4 linked regions of the Homo sapiens genome follow. The protein of the gene in region 4 interacts with the protein of the main gene of each other region in a pairwise test. Each region holds a gene or a part of one and is shown on either strand. Other genes may lie near its edges.

What was found.
Region 1: the proteins of AP1M1 (region 4) and ZBTB44 interact in binary tests that used the Homo sapiens proteins (3 or more experiments, as listed by UniProt).
Region 2: the proteins of AP1M1 (region 4) and RP9 interact in binary tests that used the Homo sapiens proteins (3 or more experiments, as listed by UniProt).
Region 3: the proteins of AP1M1 (region 4) and LRATD2 interact in binary tests that used the Homo sapiens proteins (3 or more experiments, as listed by UniProt).

What each region holds. Positions count from the first base shown.
Region 1 is NC_000011.10:130,311,902-130,319,037, reverse strand, and holds the start of ZBTB44 (zinc finger and BTB domain-containing protein 44), read left to right. Parts: upstream 1-4,120; 5' UTR 4,121-4,663; exon of another isoform or gene 4,664-5,221; intron 5,222-7,136. UniProt on the Homo sapiens protein: May be involved in transcriptional regulation.
Region 2 is NC_000007.14:33,106,399-33,114,005, reverse strand, and holds the start of RP9 (retinitis pigmentosa 9 protein), read left to right. Parts: upstream 1-4,601; 5' UTR 4,602-4,633; coding exon 4,634-4,785; intron 4,786-7,607. UniProt on the Homo sapiens protein: Is thought to be a target protein for the PIM1 kinase. May play some roles in B-cell proliferation in association with PIM1.
Region 3 is NC_000008.11:126,551,943-126,554,494, reverse strand, and holds the end of LRATD2 (protein LRATD2), read left to right. Parts: 3' UTR 1-2,052; downstream 2,053-2,552.
Region 4 is NC_000019.10:16,207,900-16,214,937, forward strand, and holds part of AP1M1 (AP-1 complex subunit mu-1), read left to right. Parts: intron 1-119; coding exon 120-250; intron 251-1,130; coding exon 1,131-1,278; intron 1,279-2,460; coding exon of another isoform or gene 2,461-2,496; intron 2,497-7,038. UniProt on the Homo sapiens protein: Subunit of clathrin-associated adaptor protein complex 1 that plays a role in protein sorting in the trans-Golgi network (TGN) and endosomes.

The sequences.
Region 1 (7,136 bases), on a different chromosome or scaffold from region 4:
TCCGGGGAGCAATAGGAAGCCATTGTTGGCTGACATCACTGCTATGCATTGCAACTCTGGCGACCATGTAGAGAATGAGGAAAAGGGAGAGTGCATTTGGGAAACCACGTGAGTGGTATTATAATTCTCCAGGCACAAGCTAGTATCATCTTATTTTAGGACGGTGGCAGTGGAGAGGGACACATTCAACAGGACTTGTTGATGGATTGGAATTGAGATACAGTAGTAAAGTAGCAAAGTCACCCTGCTTCACTGGGTGAATGGTAAAATGTGAACACTAGAAGAGGTATAAATTTTAGGGTAAGAGAGTGAGATTAATTTTTTATATATGTAGTTGTATAATCTAATCTAATAAGGAGGCAAGGTCGGGTAGAAAGGATTCATGCCTTAATGCTAATGCTTTTGGACTAAATAACTAAGTTTCCATTCAGTTATAATGGTCTTCCACAAGGAAGTGCCATCTTTTGCAGAATTTATTCCCCCAAAGAGCTCGTGGCTGAAATATAACTCCTGGAATTTGCCTGGAATTTGAATTCCTCAGAATCATCCACACCAAGTTAATAATTAAAGGTTCCTCATACTGTCTACATTTGTTTTTTTCACCTGTGTACAGGATTCTGATTTCACAAAATCCTCCCAGCAGTATTATTTAACCTAGTGTCAAAGAAAGGTGTGTATATTCCAGCAACCCAGAGGCAAGTCTCTACCAGCTCAAGAAGGAAAAAGGTGGGAGGCTGCAGAAGCCACAGAAACTGACCCTGCCCAGAGCCAAAGCAGACAAGAGGGCTCCTGCAAAGTTAATCTTCTTTGAGATTTTCTCACACCCTCTCCAAGCATCTAGCATTGAGCTCTGAAGGGCCTCACGGTCATTTGTTCGTTAATAAATTCTTCAGACCTGAGGTGGGGGTGGAGTGGAAGGATGATAAAATATTTAAATGTTAAATGAGAAAGAAAAGCAGGAAAGGGCTCAGGTATGGTAGCTTATGCCTGTAATCCCAGCACTTCAGGAGGATCACTTGAGCCCAAGTTCACATAGCAAGACCCATCTCTACAAAAAATTTTTAAAATTAGCCAGGCACAGTGGCGCACTTGTAGTCCTAGCTATTTGGAAAGCTGAGGCCAGAGGACGCTTGTGCCCAGGAGTTTGAGACTGTATTTAGCTGTGATTGCACCACTGCACTCTTGGACAACACAATGAGAGCCTGTCTCCAAAAAAAAATTTTTTAAGTGGAAAAGGCAGAGGAGACAAGGGAATAATCTAAGGGAAGAAAAGTTTTTAAATGATAAAAGCCATATATGACAAACCCGCAGCTAATATCACACTGAACAGGAAAACATTGAAAGCCTTTCCACTAAGATCTGGAACAAGACAAGGATACCCACTTTCACCACTCCTATTCAATATATTTCTGGAAGTCCTCACCTGAGCAATTAGGCAAGAGAAAGAAATAAAGGGCAACTGAATTGGAAAGGAAGAAGTCAAATTATCCTTGTTTGCAGATGACTTGTTCTTATATTTAGAAAAACCTAAAGACTCCATCTCTCAGAACTTTGATGAACGAATTCAGTTAAGTTGAAGGATACAAAAATCAATTGATTTTCTTTTCTTTTCTTTTTTTTTGGAGATGGAGTCTTGCTCTGTCGCCAGGCTGGAGTGGCACGATCTCGACTCACTGTAACCTCCACCCCCTGGGTTCAAGTGATTCCCCACCTCAGCCTCCCAAGTAGCTGGGACTACGGGCGCGTGCCACCATTCCCAGCTAACTTTTTTGTATTTTTAGTAGAGATGGGGTTTCACTATGTTGGCCAGGCTGGTCTTGAACTCCTGACCTCGTGATCTGCCTGCCTTGGACTCCCAAAGTGTTGGGATTACAGGCGTGAGCCACCACACCCAGCACAGTTGATTTTCTATATGCTAACAGCCATCAATCTGAAAAAGAAATCAAGAAAACAATCTCATTCACAATAGCTACAAAAAAGCAAAATAAAATACCTAGCAATAAATGTAAGCAAGGAAGTGAAAAATCTCTACCCGGAAAAGTGTACACATTGATGAAAGAAAATGAAGAGAACAAAAAAAAAAAAAAAAAAAAAAGGAAAGATATCTCACGCTCATGAATTGAAAGAATTAATATTGTTAAAATATCCACACTACCCAAAGCCACCTACAGGTACAGTACAATCCCTACCAAAATATCAATGACACTCATCACAGAACTAGAAAAAAAAATCCTAAAATTTGTATGGAACCACAAAAGACCCTGAAAAGCTAGGGCAATTCTGAGCAAAAATAACAAAGCTAGAGGCATTCCTCTACCTGACTTCAAGTTGTACTACAAAGGAAAGCAAATTTTTGTGTCAGTGTAGTAGTTGAGGAGCTGCCACCACAGCCCCTGGAGAAGCACTTAGAAAAGACTTGCCTCATGGTCTTTTATTGACTATCCTGTTAAAGGCACTAGGAGAGGTAGATAGGATTTGACTACTTCATTTCCACCCTGATTCTTGTCCAGTTGCTTACCACCTACATACATTCTCACACATTCCTCACCAGGGCCCCAGCTCATGCCCTTTCCTGAGCCCTGCTCTGTGGCCGCCAGTCCTCTCCCAGGTAAGCATTCCGCCTTCTTTCCCTTCCCCTCTTCAAAACTTAGTGCAAAAGTTTCTGGGCCTAGTTCGCATCTTTCTGATTTTTCTCATCTCTGAAATGGGAATAATAAGAATGATAGTGGGAATAATAATAGAAACCTGTGATAAAACCTGTGAATTACAGTTGCCGTAAGGATTAGATAACATTATACATGCTTGAAAACTTGTTGGAAACTGCGAAGGACTATAAAAACAGAAGTTGTTTTTATTGCCTTTATTCCTAAAGAAGATTGCAAGTGTCAGGGTGTTCAGGTGCTTGGCTGCTTGTCTCTCAGAGTGAATTAATGTGAGATGTTGCCAAGTGTTTCAAAAGGAAAATCCACTCTACTTCAGCGGGACGTCCACCCACCTTGCACAAAACCCTCTGGAAAGAAGTCTTTCGGTTTGCAAACTGGAGGCGTGGGAAAACAGAAAGCGCCCAAGGAGCACCTGCCCGCACCCCGCCCGCCCCCAGGCACCTGGGGCGCTGCCGCCTGCAGTCCCGGGAACCCCTATGACCTCCGGGGGCGGTGTGGAGAGCGCTCGCCCGCCTGGCCAGGGGAAGCCAAGACTTAGGGCCCTAGGAGTTAACTAGGTTGATTGATTTTGCAGTTGACCAAGAACTTCAAAACCCCCCGGGCGGTACCGGTTACTTCGGGGAGGCCCGCACACTTCCTCCGGGAAGGCCAGGAAGTAAGTGATGGTGCAGTAAAAATGACAGATTCACGGTTGTGGAAGAAGTAGGGTATATTTTTGGAGCAGCTCTAGCTGTCCCTGTGTTGGAAGAACGAGAGGGACCTGGGAGTCCGTTTCTCCACTCATCTCAAGAACCGCACGTCCTGCCAGGTCACCGAGGCAAGTGCTAGAACGGAAGAGAGCAAGCACTGCGAGGAGGCCCGAGGAGCCACGCAATCCAGACACCCGCCGCATGTCGCAGTCCGCCCAGGACGGGGGCGCGGGCTCACCTGTCTGCGGGGCGGCCCTTGGCAGGCCTGTTTCCATGGGTGAACAATGGGCACCTTACCAACTAACCTCCCTCGCCGAAGAGGGGCTGAAGTGTTTCTATTTCGACCTCCCTACAAAAACTACCCGAGAAAATAGGAGTTATGTTTTTAGTTCGAAGAAAAAAATAATGCTATAAATGTGACTCCTGCGGAGAAATGCTTCTCAGGTGTGAGAGGGGAACTGGGTAAGAGGACGGCTTAGAGGAAGGACAAATGGGACAGGGCTTATGGGGCATGTGAATGTAAATCGGCACATGTGCGCACATATGCAAAAATACAGTGTCAAGACTCACGGCCTTTCTGGGTCACGCAGGCTCCACCGTCTAAGGAGACGGAGTCACCAACAGTACAAGTCCCGACGGCCAAGAGGGCCCATTTTCTGCGCTTGCGCAATCATCACGTTTCCTTCCCCGCCCCGAGCCCCGCCCCCGAGCGCGCTCCGCCCCGCCCCCTTCTCCTCCCCTTCCCCAGCCAGGCCGCCGGCGCAGAGCATTGTGGGACACAAACAAAGTGCCCCCAAACAGGCTGGAGTGAGCGGAGCGGCAACGGCGGCGGCGCCGGCCGCACGCGCGCGGCGGCGGCTCCCTCCCAACCTCCCCCTCCCCTCCCCTCAGTCCCCTTCCCCTTCCCCACCCCGCCCCGCTGGGAACACGCGAGCCGTCGCCGCGCTCCCCAAACAACCGCCTGCCCTCGGCCAACCGTCCCCAACGGTCGCCAGCGCGCGGCTCCCGGGCCCCCTCGCTCCTCCCCTCTGGCCCCTCCGAGCGCTGGGGGTGCTTCCCTCCCCGCCTCCTCGCACTCCCACTCGCGGGCACGCCGGTGGCTGTGCCGCCATGCCCCACCACAGGCTGCTCACGGGCCTAGGCGCGGCGGCCCGAGATAGGGGCCCCTGAGCCTCCCGGGGGAGGAGAGAGGCAGCGAGCCGCGCTCCGCCCCCTCCCCCCGGGCCGCCGCCGCCGCCGCCTCGCCGCCCCAGCCTGGCGGGAGAAGGAGGAGGAGCAGCAGGCCTCCGGGCCCGGCGCCGCCGCCCGCAGGTAACGGGGAGGGGAGGGCGGGCTCCGGTCGCGCGGGGGACGGCCCCTGCACGCTGCCCGTGGCTGACACCGCGTGGCCCCCACCTGGCGCCGAAGGGAGCGGAGAGCCGGGTCTGTCAGCCTAGTCCGCGCCGGGAGACACCCCACGGGATCCCCTCGGTGGCATTTAATCCTTCTGGGAGGAGACCGGCCTTGGGCCCCGCGGTCCCGGAGCAGTTACCCCGACCTTCCAGGGAGCTGCCCGTCCTTTGCACGCCCATTTGCCCAACACCCTAACCCGGAGCGGCCGGAGTGTTGCCACCTCTCACCTGGTCGAACCCGGGAGGCTCAGACCTGTTTTTTTTCCTCCTTTCCCCTTCTGCTTTTTCTCTGGTACAGAAAGAAAAAGATGGCACTTCTTTAAAAAAATATATATATATATATATACACACACACAAACACACACACACATACACACACACACACACCTCTTTTCCTTTCCTTCCTGAGGATCACTCTGCATCTAGTCGTTTTATTGCTGGCCTAATCAGAAAAAGGGGTTACCTCGAGAAATGACAGGTACGTTAGAACTGATTAAAAGGAAATTGCGTCCATGTGAGTTCTATGAATCCAAGCAGAATTTACAATAAAACCCCGTAATTGTGTGCTTTTTTTTGGAACTTACAAAAATGAAGACAAAAACTTAATTTCTTTTTCAGCGTGTAAGTAGATAATCTCTTGAAGTCAGGAAGAAATTCTCCATAACTTCCACTTATTTTCTTAATGCTTTATTTGGAGATCGGCTGATACCGGAAGCAAGCTGCACGATTTTGATTTCCTTTTCTCTAGGTGTTCAGTTGGAATTCTTGGGTTTAAAAAATACTGTATAAATCTTCATTTCCCCCATTACTTCACTTGGACTGTCAGTGGATTAATAATAATTTTACCTAATGTAGTTTCCCCTTATCATAGAATGTGAATATAATGAACGTAGTCCTTTAGTTTTGTATTTTAGGATTATTAGTAATGTACTGATTAATTATGAAAACCAGATTATTCATTTTGTGCAGTACTGCTTGGCATTTTTGCATTTGTAATTATTTAATTCTCAGAACAACCTAATGATGCAGATATTATTACTTGAATTTTATAGAAGTGACAAACTTAGTGATACGAAGAATTACAACTTGCCTTAGGGCACACAACTAGTAAGATAGTTTAGATTTCAACCCAAATATAATTCCAGTATAGATGTACTTTCGTGTACTTTCTACCGTACTTCTCAATAGAAGTACAATTTTATTAACTTTGTTATGAAAAATTTTAGTCGTATAGAGGTTCGTTCTATACAATTGTGATCGGTTATTCATGCAATGAATAAAAATGCTAATCAATGCAATGAATAACCAACTCAGTGATTAGCATTTTTGCCATATTGTTTCCTGTCTTTCTCTGTATGTGTGTAATTATTTGAAAGTAAGCTGCAAACACTGTAATCCTCAAATATTTCGGCATGTGTTTCCTAAAAATAGGGACATTCTCCTACTAACCCCAGTATCATTATTAATGCCTATCAAAATTAACAACTCCATCTTCAAAATTCCTCAGTTGTTCCAAAGTGTCTTTGAGGGTTCTGCCCCCAGTTGTAGTCAGTCAAGATTCATGCATTGATTGCATTTGGTGATTAAGTCTTTAGTCATTTTGTAAAATGAAGAGTATCCATCCCCTCTTCTTTTTGCAGGGGAAATTAAATAGGATGAATATTCCCTCCCTTCTTTTTTTCTGACACGTAATTGACCAAACCAGTTGTCTTGTAAAATATACCCACATTCTGGATTTGTGCCCTCCTAATGTCATTTCGTTTATTCCTCTTTCTCCCTGAATTTCCTATTAACTGGAAGTTAGGTGTAAAGGAAGGCTTAATTAGCTTAAAGTAAAACTTCCTTTGGCAAGAATATTTAATAGGTGATGCTGTGTACCTCCTGTTGCATAATATAGGAGGCACACAATGTCAGATTCCCACACTATTAATGATGCTAAATGTAACCATTTGATTAAAGTGCTGACTACTGATCTGTTGTAAAGGTGTGGTTTGCCAGTTTGTGATTAATATGTAATCTTGGGGTAAAACTTGGACACTAAGCAAATACCCAGTTTCTGACAATCTTTTGCTTAGTGGTTTTTAGCACCCATGATGACTTTTGCTTAAATCAGTTATTGGAGGTTCTCTGTAAGGAAGAGATTTCCTTCATTAAGTGCAGGTAAACTATTGTTCTTCCCCAAAATGCAAATTAAATGTTAAATTTAATCTCTTTACTTTTCAATATTCATAGTAAAGAGCTGGAGAAATAGCCACCCCCAATGATGTTTTTTGGGGCAGGGGTGAATGATACCACTTCAGACTCTCATGGGTTTTAATTTATTCCTTGTTTTATAACCAGTTACAGTCGTCTTTCTTTTTAATGACCAAATTGTCCCAGATTTGGTCAGTAGG
Region 2 (7,607 bases), on a different chromosome or scaffold from region 4:
GGAGTTCAAGACCAGCCTGGCCAACATGGTAAAACCCCATCTCTACAAAAAACACAAAAATTAGCTGGGCATGGTGACACGCGCCTGTAGTCCCAGCTACTCGGGAGGCTGGGGCAAGAGAATCACTTTAACCCAAGAGGCAGAGGTTGCAGTGAGCCAAGATTGCGCCACTGCACTCCAGCCTGGTGACAGAGTGAGACTCTGTCAAAAAAAGGAAAGGAAGGAAAGAAAGGAGAGAGAAAGGGAGGGAGAGAGGGAGAGAAGGAGGGAGGCAGGAAGGAAGGAAGGAAGGAAGCTCATTGGCACTAAACAAGCTTTTGGGAGCCGGCAAGCTCTGATAGACGAGTGACTGCAGCAGTTAAAACCAGTCGCAGAGCCAGGGCAGGCCGTTTCAGCAGCTACCAGGTAAAACTGATCTTAGAGTTACAGCAGTCCATTTTAGCGGCTGGGCTTCTGGAAAATTTAATTCTTGGAGCAGGTCCTGTGACCACAAGTGCTTTTCCCCCCTGACCCCTTGATTCTCTTTTACTTGAGTATGACAAAAATTACCCAATTTGTATAACTAACTTTCACACAAACGTGAGACAGGGACTAGAAGGAATGAAAGGTTATCGGAATAAGAAAAAGAGGGGAAATGAGAGAGAAAGATGGCAGGGAGAGAAAAACAAGATAACAATCAGTGAGAGAATGCAGAGGCAGGGACCAGAAAATGTGGTAAAATCAGACAGAAGGACACAATGAGAGGAACAGCAAAATCTGAGGCCAAGGTGGGCATGGGAAGCAGCATGGAAGAGCGGGGAGAAAGGGATCTGAAAAAAGGACTGGTCTGAATCAAAGTCAGTAAACCAGGTTCTGTCAAATGCCCCTCAGACAGTACAGGAACCTCAAGTGTTAATGGTAAAATCCAACGTAATCCACTAAGGCCAGGCCCTAAAAAAAAGGTTTCCACCTTTCATTGAGTCTGAAATAAAGGCAGTTTTGTGAATCAGAAAACTACTGTGGTTTTGAGAACAGTAAACCCTGGAGGCTAAGCTATGCCAGTTGTTAACTTTTGCTTGGCACACACAGGATGGCTAAAGAAATGACCAGCCTTAGTCAGATCAGTTGAGGTCAGGAGTTCGAGACTAGCCTGGCCAACATGGTGAAACCCCGTCTCTGCTAAAAATACAAAAATTAGCCCAGCGTGGTGGCGCACGCCTGTGGTCCCAGCTACCTGAAAGGCTGAGACACGAGAGTCCCTTGAACCTGGGAGGCGGAGGTTGCAGTGAGCAGAGATCGTACCACTGCACTCCAGCCTGGCCAATAGAGTGAGACCCTGTCTCAAAAAAATGAAGGGAAGGGGAGGGGAGGGGAGGGAAAAGGCCAGCTGAGGAAAAATACCTCCTCACCCCCATCAACATAGCAGGGCCCCATCTGTATTGTTTTTAATTATTAAATAAATAAATTGAATGAAAAAACATCCCCAAAAGTCCATCTGAGCCGATTTGAGGCCAATGGGACATCAGGGAAATTTGTTTCCAGCAGCTTCCTATCCTCTTCTTTACCAAGAGATTCTCCAAGGGTTTCCAAGAGATTCTCCCACTCCCACTATTCCCACACACCTAAATTCATGAGGGTTGATGAAAAACTCTGGACTAGAAATCAGACCATTTTGGTTGCAGGGCCACACTCTCCTTCTGAGCCTCAATTTCCTTATCTTACATTGTCTTGCATGCCCCCATAGGGTTTCTGTAAAATCAACTGGGAGAACATATGGGGGCAGGGGGAGATCTGCATGGCACTATATAAATGTAAAGAATCATATTTATCTGTGAGTAATAGAAGACCCAACTCAAAATCACTTCAATAATAAAGAAATGTACTATCTCCCAGAATGAGAAGTATGGATAGGTAGCAACACCAGGACTGGTTGATCAAATGTCTCTATCACATCCCCAAGGACCCAGGGGTCTCCTTCTGTCCTCTGCCATCCTCTGGGGGTTGCAGGCAACAACATCTGGAGGCAGAAAGGGGATCTTTGACACTCCCAAGCATCATTTATTAAGAGCAAAGACAACCTTACCCTGAAAGCCACCTCCATCCGACCTCTCCTCATACCTCATTGGCTAAAATTGCACCACAGGTCCATTGCTAAAACAATCAGTGGAAACGAGAACAAAATTACTAATGACTGGCTTAAGACAAGTCAAGACTCACCTCTAGAGAGGCATGAAGAGGCCTCCACTCTCTAACCAGCTTCCTGTATGATTCCTGAACAAAATCAAAGCTGGTAGCAAGGAAGAGAAGGAGAAATGTCAACTCAGTTGCCAAATATTTGCCCCAGAATACCAATTAAGTTTGGTGTCTGACCTTCCTCCCTCAGTCTTTCGTACCTGCAAGCCTAAAGTAAAGCACGTTGCAATTTTCCCTCCGATCCTACTGGTTAGCAACTATTGATGGATAGAAATAATTTTTCTTTTTTTGAGACAGGGGCTCACTCTGTCACTCAGGCTGGAGTGCAGTGACACGATCATGGCTCACTGTAGCCTCCACCTCCTGGGTTCATGCAATCCTCCCACCTAAGCTCCACAAATACCTAGGACAACAGGCACAAGCCACCATGCCTGGCCCTAGAAGTAATTTTAACAGCTGTTTTTAGTGCATGACCAAAGGGATTCTCATGTTTCTACTGCGCTGCAGAAGACCATAGACATGCACGCCTGAGGGTCCACTTCACCATGAGAGTTCCTTGAAGACTTGTATTTTGGGTAGGAAAAAAAGAAAGATTTTGCATTGTACTCTCTAATCTAGCCATGTGATCTTTCCCTTCTCCTACTTTTTTCCTCTCCTCATCTCCCCAGTGGGGAAAGGTCACTGGTAAGATAAGAGCTTGTAAAAATACACCTTAGCAGCAAAACAATGGTGTCAAGATTACACTGTGAAGGGTGATCAATACAAGCAGGAGAAAATCTATTCTTTTTTTAGTTGCTCCATTCTGAAAGGTTTAAAACCTGTCCAGTAGCACAGACTAAGGACCAACTGCAGCTGCCCCACCAGTGGGCCAACACCAAGGCTGCTTGACTGGCCTCAAGAATGAATCTCTGGTGTCTTAGGAGGGGGCAGAAGAATAAAATGAAAAACAGAGGGGTTCATGGACAGGAGGGTACAACAGAAAGAAAGCACAAAGAGAAGTCAGAGAATATCAAATCACAAAATAATTTCATAGTCAGGTGCAGTGATTCCCACCTGTAATCCCAGTGTTTTGGGAGGCTATGGCAGGAGGATTGCTTGAGGCCAGGAGTTCAAGGCCAGCCTAAGCAGCATAGCGAGACCCCGTCTCTACAAAATAAAAAACTTTAAAAAGTTAAAAAGAATTTTGGAAAGAGCAGTATCACATAGAAAATTAATGAGACTGTATCATCGAGGAGAGCCATGTCCTAAAAGAAAAAAAAAAAAGCTATTCATCATGATGCAAGACTTCAAAATATGTTAATCATCATAAAAGTTGGGCAGTTCATGTGGACAATCGCCATGCAATTGCCCATAATCTATCCCTGCAATACACTTTTTCTATGTTGAATTTTCTTTTTAGTTTGCTTTCGTTTTTCTATTTTCTCTTTTAGCTTTTTCATTATTGTAAATTGTCAGCATTATGTTTTACAATTCACTATGCTATGTATTACATCTTAACATCATTTCTAATACTGGAGGCATCAACTATATAAAGACTTTTAGAGAGTTCAAATTTGTTTTATGCATTTTTTGCAAATATGACTCAATCAAAGCTCATTATTACAATGGTGACTGTGTAAGCATTCTACATATATGCAAAAATGTAGAAATTTCCTCGATAAATAAATAAGTGTCTTTTCTGTACATCTGCATTTGTGAAAGATGAAATTTCTCAGGATCTTGGCTCCTCGGGTGACTGGCACAGTGGTGACGTCATGGTGACCCATCCTGTCAAAAGAGTTAGGTTGTCTCTCATGGTATATCAGATGACCGCAGTTATAAAGCTGGGTGCACACTATTACCGAACATAATTATATGTTTATACATTTCACTTTTTGAACACTTTTTTTTTTTTTTTTCTGAGAGACAATCTCGCTTTTTCGCCCAGACTGGAGTGCAGGGGCACCATCTCGGCTCACTGCAACCTCTGCCTCCTGGGTTCAAGCAATTCTCCTGCCTCAGCCACCCAAGTAGCTGGGACTACTGGCGCCCGCCACCACGCCTGGCTAATTTGAACATTTTTTTATGAATACATTTCATCTGCTCATCCCTATGTGACTGTTGCTAGTATACCTGAGGTGGGTGTGGCCGGGCGGGAACCTCCAGGCTCCCAACTAGCGCCTCGCCCCGCTTCGGCTCCAGCTAGGCGGCGCTCCCCACCCACCCGCAGCAGCCCGCCTGGCGGCTGGGCCCGAGACCCGGAGCCCCTGACTTGGGGCCCGACGCGGGGAGGCGGGGATCGGGTGGCCGAGGCTGAGACTTCGGGGCCGCCGGGGTGAGTTGCGGGGCGGCGGCGGGAGGGGGCGCTGCGAAGCCCCGCGACCGCCGCGCGGAGGAAGTGCTCTCTTGGCTGCCGCCGCCGCCGCCGCCGCCGCCGGAGCCGCGCCGCGGGGGTTGCCCGAGCGGCGCTGCGGGGGCTGACATGTCGTCCCGGCCTGGGCGCGAGGACGTGGGGGCTGCGGGCGCGCGGCGGCCGCGTGAGCCGCCGGAGCAGGAGCTGCAGCGACGTCGGGAGCAGAAGCGGCGGCGACACGACGCGCAGCAGCTGCAGCAGCTCAAGCACCTGGAGTCCTTGTGAGTCCCGAGCTGCCGTCCGCGCGCGGCCAGTCTTCTGAAGCCAGGGGCCCGGGGCGCGGGACGCCGCGGTGGGCGCTAGGCCGGGTCCTCCGAGCCCCCGCGAGCAGGCAGGGGGGCTGGGCCCGGCAGGAGCCTGGTGCGGGCGACCGATGTCGGGCGCCGCGGTCAAGGACTTGAAGTCCATCCTCCTGGCGGGGCGTTCAGGGAGCCAACTGCCGCTCGGCACCAAGCAGAATCTGACTTGGGAGGCCCTGCGCTTCCCTAGCTCCAGGGGGTTCCAGGAGAGTCCAAATGACCCGGGAGAGTGTGGTGTAAAGAAGATTCAAATGTAGGGGAAGGAAATATGGTTTCCCTCTACCCTTCTAAGTTCTTAAGCTGGGCCACAAATTAAATTGTCATAAGACAGATTAACAGGAGAAAAACTTTTAATTATGTACCCGTGCACTAGAGGGCCACAAAAGTGGGAGACAAAGAAGGGCCAGGGAATAGGGGCGTGGGCCTTTTGGGGCGTGGTGGAGACCTTTTGGAAGGGTGATGGGGGAAATGTATGGTGAATAAAGGTTGCTTTGTTATCCCGATGAGGCGCTCAGGCGATAAAAGTTGCCCCCAAGCAGCTGTCTTCCTGATACAGATACATTTACTACAGAAAATTTCCTTTATAGGTGTAAATTTCTGTTTACAACAGGCGAGTCGAAAAATAATAAGAACAAAAGGAAAAAAAGCAGTCATACTTTATTTTAGGCAGTTGAGGGGTAGCTGAATAAGTTATCCTGTGTTGTTTGGTTCTGTTACTTATAGCTCAAAGTCATCAATATGCCAGGGTGGCATGTTTGGGGATGGTGCATTCTTGTCTTTTGCAGTCATTTATCAGGGTGGCGTTTCCTAAATTCTAACACAGACCTCGAGTGGAAAGTTCAGGCAGCAACTCTTTCAGTTCTTGTCCGTGATTCTATAATTAGCTGCATAAAACAACCTTTTCTAAGTGTGGCATTCACTCAGTTATTCAAGAATTCGTTTCTGTTTTAGCCACTTCTAGTTACCTGTGCTAAGTAGGTGTTAAGTATAGCCTAACGCTGCCTCCTTGAATATTTTAAGTTTAGCCTAAAAGTTTCTCTGTACTTAGTGAACTGTAACCTAAGTAGATGTGTAAACAGACTGTAACCTACTGTTATAAGTACCTGAGTCTCAGACAATCACAGCAGCTGATTTTCAGGCCGTCACAGGTGGTCAGCCTTTGAAACCCTGTTCAAAGAAGGCAAACGCCAGGCTGTATGGAATCCAGCTATTTCTCTACCTCATTTGCTTTTCTGTACATCACTTTCCTTTTCCTGTCCATAAATGTTATCCCACCAGGTGGCAGCCTGAGAATTGCTCTGGACCTATTCTGGTTATGGGGGTGCCCTCTTTGAAAACAGTTCTTTGCTCAAGTAGAGTTTAATTTGTCTACTTTTAAAAAACATAATTCATATAAGAAAAGTTCCTCAAAGAATTAAAATCCTTTTTATAATTAACCTTCTGGGAGGTTTGATGTGAGATAAATTCCTATGTTGGGACCTGGCCTGCTCTTTTTCCAGTGTGGCCCGCTCTGAACGACTTTTCCCCTTAGCAGGGCAGGGGATGCAGGATAGAGACCCTGCATTGTGGGCATCCATGTTACAGGGCAGTCCTGGCCCTTTCAAGTCACTGTGTGGCGCTCTTGGTCTCCCAGGGAAGTCAGGTGTTCAAAGATCTTCCCCTAGCGTAAGCATCAGAATGCCTGGCCCTGCCCAGCCCTCAATATATTTAGCTATAGAATGCTAGAGGATGGTTAATTCCACTTATTTGTAGCTCAGAGAGCTTTTTCACAGATGAGAGAGATTATAACCTACTTTTACAGATGAAAAAATGGAGGAACAGTGGTTAAGTCATGTGATCAAGCATACATTGACCAGTTAGTTAACCAGCAAATCTAGAGCTGAACCCAGGTGTCTGATTGACTGGTGGGATTTTTCCAGTTTCTGAGATTTAAAACTGAATGAGCCGTTGAGACATTTGCTTTGGCCAGTTCAGAATCTTGTTTGAGCTTTAAATTGTATTTATACCACAGTAATATGTAGTTTTAAAATTCAAATAGTACTAAAAGTGCTACCAAAAAATAGCAATAGGCTGCCCAACTCCTCAGTAACCACTCATATTCCCTGTGTCCCTCTTCCCCCTCCCAAACCAGGCTTCTCTGTGTAAACTTTTAGGTTTTACTTCTGGGATTTAACTGTTTGGTTTTTGTTTTTTTTTTTTGAGATGGAGTCTCGCTCTGTCACCCAGGCTGGAGTGCAGTGGTGCAATCTTGGCTCACTGCAGCCTCCACTTCCTGGGTTCAAGCGATTCTCCTGTCTCTGCCTCCCAAGTACCTGGGACTACAGGTGTGCATCACCATGCCCAGCTAATTTTTATATTTTTAGTAGAGATGGGGCTTCACCATGTTGGCCAGGATGGTCTCGATCTCTTGACATAGTGGTCTGCCCACCTCAGCCTCCCAAAGTGCTGGGATTATAGGCGTGAGCCGCTGCGCCCACCAACTGTATATTCCTAAATTGTATATTTATACTGTTTACATCAATTCAACATCTTAGACATACCTCTTAACTTCTTGTCACAGTAAGGATTTAGTTCTTTACCTACCCTTCTTGTTTCCAATCTTCCAGTATAGTTCCATCATAGCAATTTTTGCTAAACGAATGCTTAGTATTAACATTATTATAACTAGGCTGGGCTCTGTGGCTCACGCCTATAATCCCAGCATTTTGGGAGGTAGAGGTGGGAAGATCGCTTGAGGCCAGAAG
Region 3 (2,552 bases), on a different chromosome or scaffold from region 4:
ATGAATTTCTTGTTGGAAATGTAAATCTAGTGTCCATATTTAATACTCTCACAGCTTTGTGTTTATTCTCTTTGCTCATGGAATAGCAGAACAAGATAAACATGGGTTAAGACATTTAGGAGAACCTGCTGTATCTAACCCAGTTGGATTTTCTTTCATGCTTAACACAGTAGTGAAAATAGAAGGTAGGCCGGGCACAGTGGCTCATGCCTGTAATCCCAGCACTTTGGGAGGCTGAGGCAGGTAGATCACCTGAAGTTAGGAGTTCGAGACCAGCCTGGCCAACATGGCGAAACCCTGTCTCTACCACAAATACAGAAAATTAGCTGGGCGTGGTGGCAGGCGCCTGTAATGCCTGCTACTTGGGAGCCTGAGGCAGAAGAATTGCTTGAAGCTGGGAAGCAGAGGTTGCAGTGAGCCGAGATCGCACCACTGCACTCCAGCCTGGGCAGCAGAGCAAGTAGTAATAACCACCGTGTAGACAAGTGGGAGGGAAGAATAGAATGGCACTGTCCAGCTCTGGGCTAGCCAGATCAACTCCCCCACCCGTCTTCTTCCTCTGTCCCAGAATGGAAAATGATGTATGGTCAGTCACGCTGAAGTATAGCAGCGACTGTGTTAAGAGAGAGCAGTGACTCTCTCTTCTAGAGAAGAGGTTTTCAATAACAGGGCTTGGAAATGAACTAGAATAGGAAATAGATCTTTTCAGATGCTGCTTTCCCATGTAATACAAGCGTTTCTACAGGGTACCAGAGGTGTGAAATATGTGACACTTAAGAACAGTGATTTTTATTGGGAATTTTCTTAGGGTTATTACACTTAAAGCAACAACCAACTAGTAACAGCTCCAGGAAAGGGGAATGAATCAACTCTTGGTTCTTTCCTGAAGACGGCAGTGTTGTGGATAAGTGAGTTTTTAATGCCCTGGCAGTGGCTACATTTGACACTTTAGAAAAAATAAACATATTTAATAATTTTTGTTTCTCCTTAGGAATAAGACTGTAGAACTGTTTTGTACTGTGAATTACGGATGCTCTTTGAAGGAAAGAAATATCGATTCTAATGTTCTTCAGAAGTTCTGGCAGGGATAAGCAGGACATCGACTGGAACGTATGCTAAATGAAAGCAGACAAATTTCTATTTTCTTACCTGAGCAAATATTTTATTGAAACTGCTTATGTATGTCAAAGGAGCCCACAACTTCAGCTACACAACTTTTTGTATTGAAAGAACTCATACTTTTTGTAGCTTTTATTTCACATTTAATTTAAAGTGACTTTTAGCACTAAAATGCCTAGAAGATTTTACTCCAGACCTATAAGGAAATGTTTAGTTTTTATGAAAAATGACAAGTCGATGGTTAAACTTCTCATGTCTTTGGTGCTTTGGCCCTAATAGCACTGGACAACACCACGACCACATGGAAACATATTTTTGGAAGCAAAACTTTAATTTTATATAACGTATGCTATGGAGAGCTAAGACAATTTAAGGACTACTTGTTTTCTATTTTTTTTCTTAATAAAATGGAATCCACTGTGTTGAAGACTCTTGATATCATGTGCTTGTCTAACCATTTTTTGTTTTATAAATTAGAATAAAATATAGTTGTGATAATGGTCATCGAATGGATTTGTTTGGAAAGCTACATCTTATTTGTGAAATGTTTTTTAAATCAGAGTAACTATCAACTGATTCAGCTTTTTGTTGTTTTGTTCTTGGCTATAATACTTGTGACTCATGAAGAATTATGTTGACAAACAGGATAAATTCCACATGCATTTTATTTCCCAGTGAGTTGTATAAACTTTATTTTTGTTGAAGGTTGTATGTTAAATCAATGTTACATTCTTATATCACTTCTTGAGAAGGAAGTTCCGATTTGAAATTGTATCATTTCCTTCAAAATGAAGGGCAGTGCTTAGTTAAATAAAAGATTGATGATATCTTTTAAGCCATTTCCTCTTCACTATGTCTTATTAAAATAAAACCTGTCAAGTTCTTTTCAAAAGATGCTATGAGCGTTTCCAATAAACCATCTATTAGAGTTCACTGGATTTTTTTCCACTTGAATACCTTTTTTCTGACATTTTTGGTCCAAATTCAAGCTACTCAGTTTCCTATAATTTCTCTGAGAATATTAGCGTGCATCACCTTTGTATTGCACAGTAAACATTTTGTTGAATTCATTTAGTGACTGAAAACCCTGCATCTACTTTGTGAAAATCAGTTATTGCTGAACTATCAGTGTTCATGAAAAATGACTTATGAACATAAATTTTCAATACATAGTGATTTTTCAGAATCCATGCAAAAATTGTTGGAAACCACACTCATTATGGAGTCTACACTGGGCAGTCTGTTTAGTAGCCCACCGGGAATCTGTGTTGCATCTTAAGTGGCTTCAGAGTTCCAGATGAAGGGAACGTATTTGCCACATAATTACAGAAAATGGGTGAACATAGTGGCACGGCACTGTTGGCATAAGGGATGCAGGTGCCAGTGGTTGGTAAGAGAACAGATGTGGCATCAGACTGGTGTGTGGGATGCCA
Region 4 (7,038 bases):
GAAGTAGGCTGTTGGTAGGACTTAGCGGGCAAATGAATGTGTGCAAGCGTTCATTCATTCCTCATCCGTCCGCTCAATGATCTGCCTCCCATTCCTCCCTCCCTCCCCAACCGCCACAGGTGTTTTCCGAGTACTTCAAGGAGCTGGAGGAGGAGAGCATCCGGGACAACTTTGTTATCATCTACGAGCTGCTGGACGAGCTCATGGACTTCGGCTACCCCCAGACCACCGACAGCAAGATCCTGCAGGAGTGAGTGGGCAGGGGTGGGGCCTGGGGCCAGGCCTGGGCGGTGTCATGACATCGACGTCATCAGGTGTGGAAACAGAAGGGGCAAATTTGTGTTCATGTTGTCCCCCACCTGCCTCCCACCTCCAGCAGTATTCGGGTTTTTACTAAGTTGCTCTTAGTGGTTTTAATTCGTTTCCTCCTCTACGCCCCCACATAACCGTGCTTTTCCTGCTCCTCATCTTTACTCTCCATCCACACAGATGCCTTCAGTACCTTGCTACTAAGGAGTCACCTCCCTTGTTTTTACTGTCATAAAATGAGACTGTGATCGAAATCTCCCCTCTTTGGAATCCTGCCCTTCAGATAAGAAGCAATGTGAATTAAGTGCTTCCTGGGGGCCGGGCCCCAGCACTTCACATTCACTCGATTCACAGCCTCCCCGTATACCGTCTCCCCATTTTACAGGGGACAAGCAAGCAGACTCCCAGAGAAGCCTGTGTTCCTAACCGCTGCACCTCCTGCTCCTTCAGCAGGATGGGGTCACCAGGTTACACTCCGAGGCGTCAGTTCCATCCACGTGCTCAGCAGGGACGGGAAGCAGCTCACACCCACTTCTTGTTTTCCTTCCCAACATGGTCTTCTTGGTCCCCCAAAATGAGCACTTCAGCCTCTATAACTTGAGTGTATTGGCTTTTGGAAATTGTGAAGATTTTTCTGTATGAAGCAGCCCCAGGTGAACCAGAGGCTGCCTTTTCTGGAGCTGCTGAAATCCAAGGGCTATTTTCAAGTCGGTCAGAACCTGCCCTGTACCCCCCACCCAACCCTGCCGAAATGTCAAGGCCAGAAGCTGTGGCGTTGGTGCGGGTACCACCTCCTTCACTCTGAGCGTGTGGCCCCACAGGTACATCACTCAGGAAGGCCACAAGCTGGAAACAGGGGCCCCGCGGCCACCAGCCACCGTCACCAACGCGGTGTCCTGGCGGTCCGAAGGCATCAAGTATCGGAAGAATGAGGTGTTCTTGGACGTCATCGAGTCTGTCAACCTCTTGGTAGGCCTCTTTTCTTTCCTTCTTCTGTAGGGTTTTATCTCTTCCACGATAGAAATAAACACAGCATTTTAAAACTGGCAAAGCCCCGAGAGCCGTTCTGTGTGGTAACAGATAGCAGGATTCAGTTTGGGCCACTCATTGAAATGTGAGTTTGTCTTATCTTTTTTTTTTGAGACGGAATCTCATTCTGTCGCCCAGGCTAGAGTGTGGTGACACGATCTCGGCTCACTGCAACCTCCGCCTCCCAGGTTCAGGCGATTCTCCTGCCTCAGCCTCCCGTGTAGCCGGGATTATAGGCACCCGCCACCACGCTCGGCTAAAGCTTGTTTTCTTTATTAGCATTTATGCTGACTGAGAATCCATACATGCACATTATTTTTAAAAATTAGAAGCAGGGTATGAGGTTAGAAAGTGAAGGGCTCTTATCAGTCACCATGCACAGAAAAAAAAAAAAGAAACTAAAGGGCTCCTATAATCAGAAAGATTAGGATTTATTCACCGTCACCCTCTCGGGCCTCATTCTGTAGACAGACAGAAACAAGTATATTGATTTTTCTATAAACCTGAGATCATAAGATGTGGTTCTCCTGCAGCTTGTTTTTTTGGTGGTGGTTGTTGTTTGGGTTTTGATTTTGCGTTCAGTGTTACTGTTTTGTATATTTTTTTCTTTTGGTTTTTTAATTATGAGGAAAGTTGACGTTTTGAAAATGAATTTTAGCGCTTGTACAGATTTGTGTACCCATCACCACACCCAGGACACAGAACCTCAAAACCTCCTCATGTTGCCCCTTTGTAGCTCCATGCTCCCCTCTTCCCCATTTCCTGGCCACCATTGAACTGTTCTCCATCACTGGAGTCTTCATCGTGTTGTGATTGTCACACGAGTGGCATCATATGTCACCGCAGCTGTCTTTCTGAGATTGTCGTATGAATGGCGTCATACAGTCATGAGCTCTCGAGTCTGGCTGCTTTAACTCATTCTAATTCTTTGCGATTCATCCAAATCCAATTGTTTTGCATATCAAAAGTCTGTTCCCTTTTATATTTATTTATATTTATTTTCTGTTCTGAACCACAGAAGGACATTTGGGTGGTTTTCCAATCTTTGGCAATTGTCAATAGAGTTGCTAGAAACATGTCGTGTCCAGGTTTATGTGTGGACATAAGTTTTCATCTCTCTAGGGTAAATACCCAGGAGTGGGATGGCTGGGTCACACGGTAAGTGTATGTTTACCTTTATAAGAAACTGCCAAACCATTGCTGTTTTGCATTCTCGCCAGCAACAGATGAGGGTTGTGATGACCCCACATCCTTTGTCAGTAGTTTTATTTTTGTCATCCTAATAGGTATGTAGTAGTATGTCAGCACAGTTTTGTGTTTTGTTTTTGTTTTTGTTTTTGAGACACAGTCTCGCTCTTGTCGCCCAGGCTGGAGTGCAATGGCACTATCTCCATTCACTGCAACCTCTGCCTCCCAGGCTTAAGCGATTCTCCTGCCTCAGCCTCCCGAGTAGCTGGGATTACAGGCACCCACCACCAGGCCTGGCTCATTTTTGTATTTTTACTAGAGACGGGGTTTCACCATGTTGGCCAGGCTGGTCTCGAACTCCTGACCTCAGATGATCCACCCGCCTCTGCCTCCCAAAGTGCTGGGATTACAGGTGTGAGCTACCACGCCTGGCCTATTCCATTTTCTTAATGGCTAATAATGTTGAGCATTGCTTTACATGTTTCTTTGTCATCTGTATATCCTCTTTGGAGAAATGTCTCTGTGCATCTTTTTAGCATTTTTAAATTGGGTTATTTTCATATAGTTGAGCCTTGATAGTTCTTTGTGTGTTCCAGATAGAAGTCCTCTGTCAGATAGGTGATTTGCAAGTATTTTCCCCCAGTCTGTAGCTTATCTTTTTATTCTCTTAGCAGTGTTTTTTTTTTTTCGACAGAGTCTCACTTTGTAGCCCAGGCTGTAGTACAAGTGGCATGCTTGGCTCAGTGCAACCTCCACCTCCGGGCTTCAAGTGCTTCTCCAGCCTCAGCCTCCCAAGTAGCTGGGATTACAGACGCATGCCACCATGCCCGGCTAATTTTTGTATTTTTAGTCGAGACAGGGTTTCACTATGTTGGTCAGGGTGGTATCGAACTCCTGACCTCAGGTGATCTGCCTTCCTCGGCCTCCCTAAGTGTTGGGATTACAGGCGTCGGCCACCATGCCCAGCCCCCAATACTATATTGAATAGGAGTGGTGAGAGAGGGCATCTTTGTCTTGTGCCAGTTTTCAGGGGGAACGCTTTCAGCTTTTGCCCATTCAGTATGATGTTGGCTATGGATTTGTCATAGATGGCTCTTATTATTTTAGGTATGTTCCTTCAAAACCTAGTTAGTTGGCTGGGCATGGTAGCTCCCGCTCTACTAAAAATAGGAAAATTAGCCGGGCGTGGTGATGCGCGCCTGTAATCCCAGCTACTCGGGTGGCTGAGGTGGGAGGATCACTTGAGCCCCAGAGGTAGAGGTTGCAGTGAGTCCAGATTGTGCCACCGCACTCCAGCCTGGGCGACAGAGCAAGACCCTGTTTCAAAAAAAAACAAAAAACAAAACCAAAAAACTCCAGTTTGTTGAGAGTTTTTAACATGAAGAGATGTTGAATTTTATCAAAAGCCTTTTCTGCACCTATTGAGATGATCATGTAGTTTCTGTCTTTAGTTCTATTTATGTGATGAATCATGTTTATTGATTTGCATGTATTGAACCAACCTTGCATCCCAGGGATAAAAGCCTTCTTGATTGTGGCGGATTAGCTTTTTGATGTACTGCTGGATTCAGTTTACTAGTATTTTGTTGAGGATTTTTGCATCAATGTTCATCAAGGATATTGGCCTGAAGTTTTCTTTTTTTGTTGTATCTCTGCCAGGTTTTGGTATCAGGATGATGCTGGCCTCATAGAATGAGTAGGGGAGGAGTCCCTCCTCCTCCGTTTTTTTGGAATCATTTCAGTAGGAATGGTACCAGCTCTTCTTTGTACGTCTGATAGAATTCAGCTGTGAGTCCGTCTGGTCCAGGTTTTTTTTGGTTGTTAGGCTATTTATTACTGATGCAATTTTGGAGCTCATTATTGGTCTGTTCAGGGATTCAGTTTCTCCCTGGTTCCATCTTGGAAGGGTATATGTGTCCGGGAGATTATCCATTTCTTCTAGATTTTCTAGTTAGTGTGCATAGAAGTGTTAATAATAGTCTCTAAGGGTTATTTGTAGTTCTGTGGGGTCAATGGTAATATCCCCTTTGTCATTTCTAATTGTGTTTATTTGGGTTTTCTCTCTTTTCTTAATAGTCTAGCTAGCAGCCTATCTATCTTATTCATTCTTTTAAAACACCAGCTCCTGGCTTACTTGATGTTTTGAATGGTGTTTTTGTGTCTCAGTCTTCTAGAGTTCAGCTGTGACTTTGGTTATTTCTTGTCTTCTGCTAGCTTTGGAGTTGGAGGCTTTTGCTTCGTGAGTTCTTTTAGTTGTGATGTTAGGTTGTTAATTTGAGATCTTTCTAACTTTTTGATGTGGGCATGTAGTGCTGTAAATTTCTCTTAACACTGCCCTAGCCGTGTCCCAGAGATTCTGGTCTGTTGTATCTTTGTTCTTATTTGTTTCAAATAATTTCTTGACTTCTGCCTTAATTTCATTATTTACCCAAAAGTAATTTGGGAGCAGGTTGTTTAATTTCCATGTAATTGTATGGGTTTGAGTGATTTTCTTAGTTTTGAATTCTATTTTTATTGATTTGTGGTCTGAGAGAGTGGCTGGTATGCTTTTGGTTCTTTTGCATCTGCTGAGGATTATTTTATGTCCAATTGTGTGGTGGTTTTTAGAGTATGTACCATGTACAGATGAGATATATTCTCTCGTTTTTGGGTGGAGAGTTCTGTAGATATCTATCAGGTCCAGTTGATCCAGTGCTGAGTTAAGGTCCTGGATATCTTTGATAATTTTCTGCCCCAGTGATCTGTCTAATACTGTCAGTGGGGTGTTGAAATCTCCCACTGTTATTGTGTGGGAGTCTAAGTCTCTTTGTAGGTCTCTAAGAACTTGCTTTATGAATCTGAGTGCTGCTGTTGGCTGCATATTTATTTAGGTTAGTTAGATCTTGTTGAATTGAATACCTTACCATTATGCAATGCACTTCTTTGTCTTTTTTTGATCTTTGTTGGCTTAAAGTCTGTTTTGTCTGAAATTAAGATTGCAACTCTGCTTTTGTCTGTTTTCTATTTGCTTGGTAGATTTTTCTCCATTTCTTCATTTTGAGTCTGTGGGTGTTATTGCATCTGAGATGGGTCTTTTTTTTTTCTTTTGAGACAGAGTCTTGCTGTGTTGCCCAGGCTGGAGTGCAGTGGCGCAATCTCGGCTCACTGCAACCTCTGTCCCCCAGGTTCAAGCAATTCTCCTGCCTCAGCCTCCCAAATAGTTGGGATTACAGGCACGCGCCACCACGCCTGGCGGTTTTCTATTTTTAGTAGAGACGAGGTTTCACCATGTTGGCCAGGCTGGTCTCGAACTCCTGACCTCAAGTGATCCACTCGCCTCGGCCTCCCAAAGTGCTGGGATATTACAGGCATGAGCCACTGCACCCAGCCAAGAATGGTGTCTTAAAGGGAGCATATCATTTGGTCTTATTTCTTTATCCAGCTCTTGCCACTCTATGCCTTTTAATTGGGGCATTTAGCCCATTTACATTCAAGGTTAGTATTGATATGCATGTATTTGATCCTGTCATTGTGTTGTTAGCTGTTTATTATGCTGACTTGTTTGTGTGGTTGCTTTATAGTGTTACTTGTCTGTGTACTTAAATGTGTTTTTGTAGTGGCTAGTAATGGCCTTTTCTTTCCTTTTTCTTTTTTTTTTTTTTGAGACAAAGTCTCACTGGGTAGCCCAGGCTGGAGTGCCATGGCGTGATCTTGGCTCACTGCAACCTCTGCCTCCCAGGTTCAAGTGATTCTCCTGCCTCAGCCTCCCGAGTAGCTGGGACTACAGGCGTATGCCACCATGCCCAGCTAATTTTTTTTTGGTATTTTTAGTAGAGACAGAGTTTCACCATGTTAGCCAGGATGGTCTCGATCTCCTGACCTGACCTCGTGATCCACCTGCCTTGGCCTCCCAAAGTGCTGGGATTACAGGCGTGAGCCACTGCACCCGGCCTTTTTTTTTTTTTGAGATGGAGTCTTGCCCTGTCACCCAGGCTGGAGTGCAATGGCATGATCTCTGCTCACTGCAACCTCTGCCTCCCTGGCTCAAGCAATTCTCCTGCCTTAGCCTCCCGAGTAGCTGGGATTACAGGTACCCACCACCATGACCGGCTAATTTTTGTATTTTTAGTAGATATGGAGTTACACCATGTTGGCCAGACTGGTGTCGAACTCCACACCTCAGGTGATTCGCCTGCCTCAGCCTCCCAAAGTGCTGGGATTACAGGCATGAGCCACCACACCCGGCCTTCTTTTCATATTTAGTACTTCTTTCAGGAGCTCTTGTACAGCAGGTCTGCTGGTAAACAAATTCCCTCAGCATTTGCTTGTCTGAAAGGATCTTTTTTATTCTTCTTTTTTTTTGAGACAGGGTCTCATTCTGTTGCTCAGGCTGGAGTGCAGTGGCATGATCATGGCTCACTGCAACCTCTACCTCCCTGGCACAAGCTATTCTCTGGCCTCAGCCTACCAATTGGCTGGGACTATAGGCAGGTACCACCACACCCGGCTAATGTATATGTTTTTGGTAGAGAT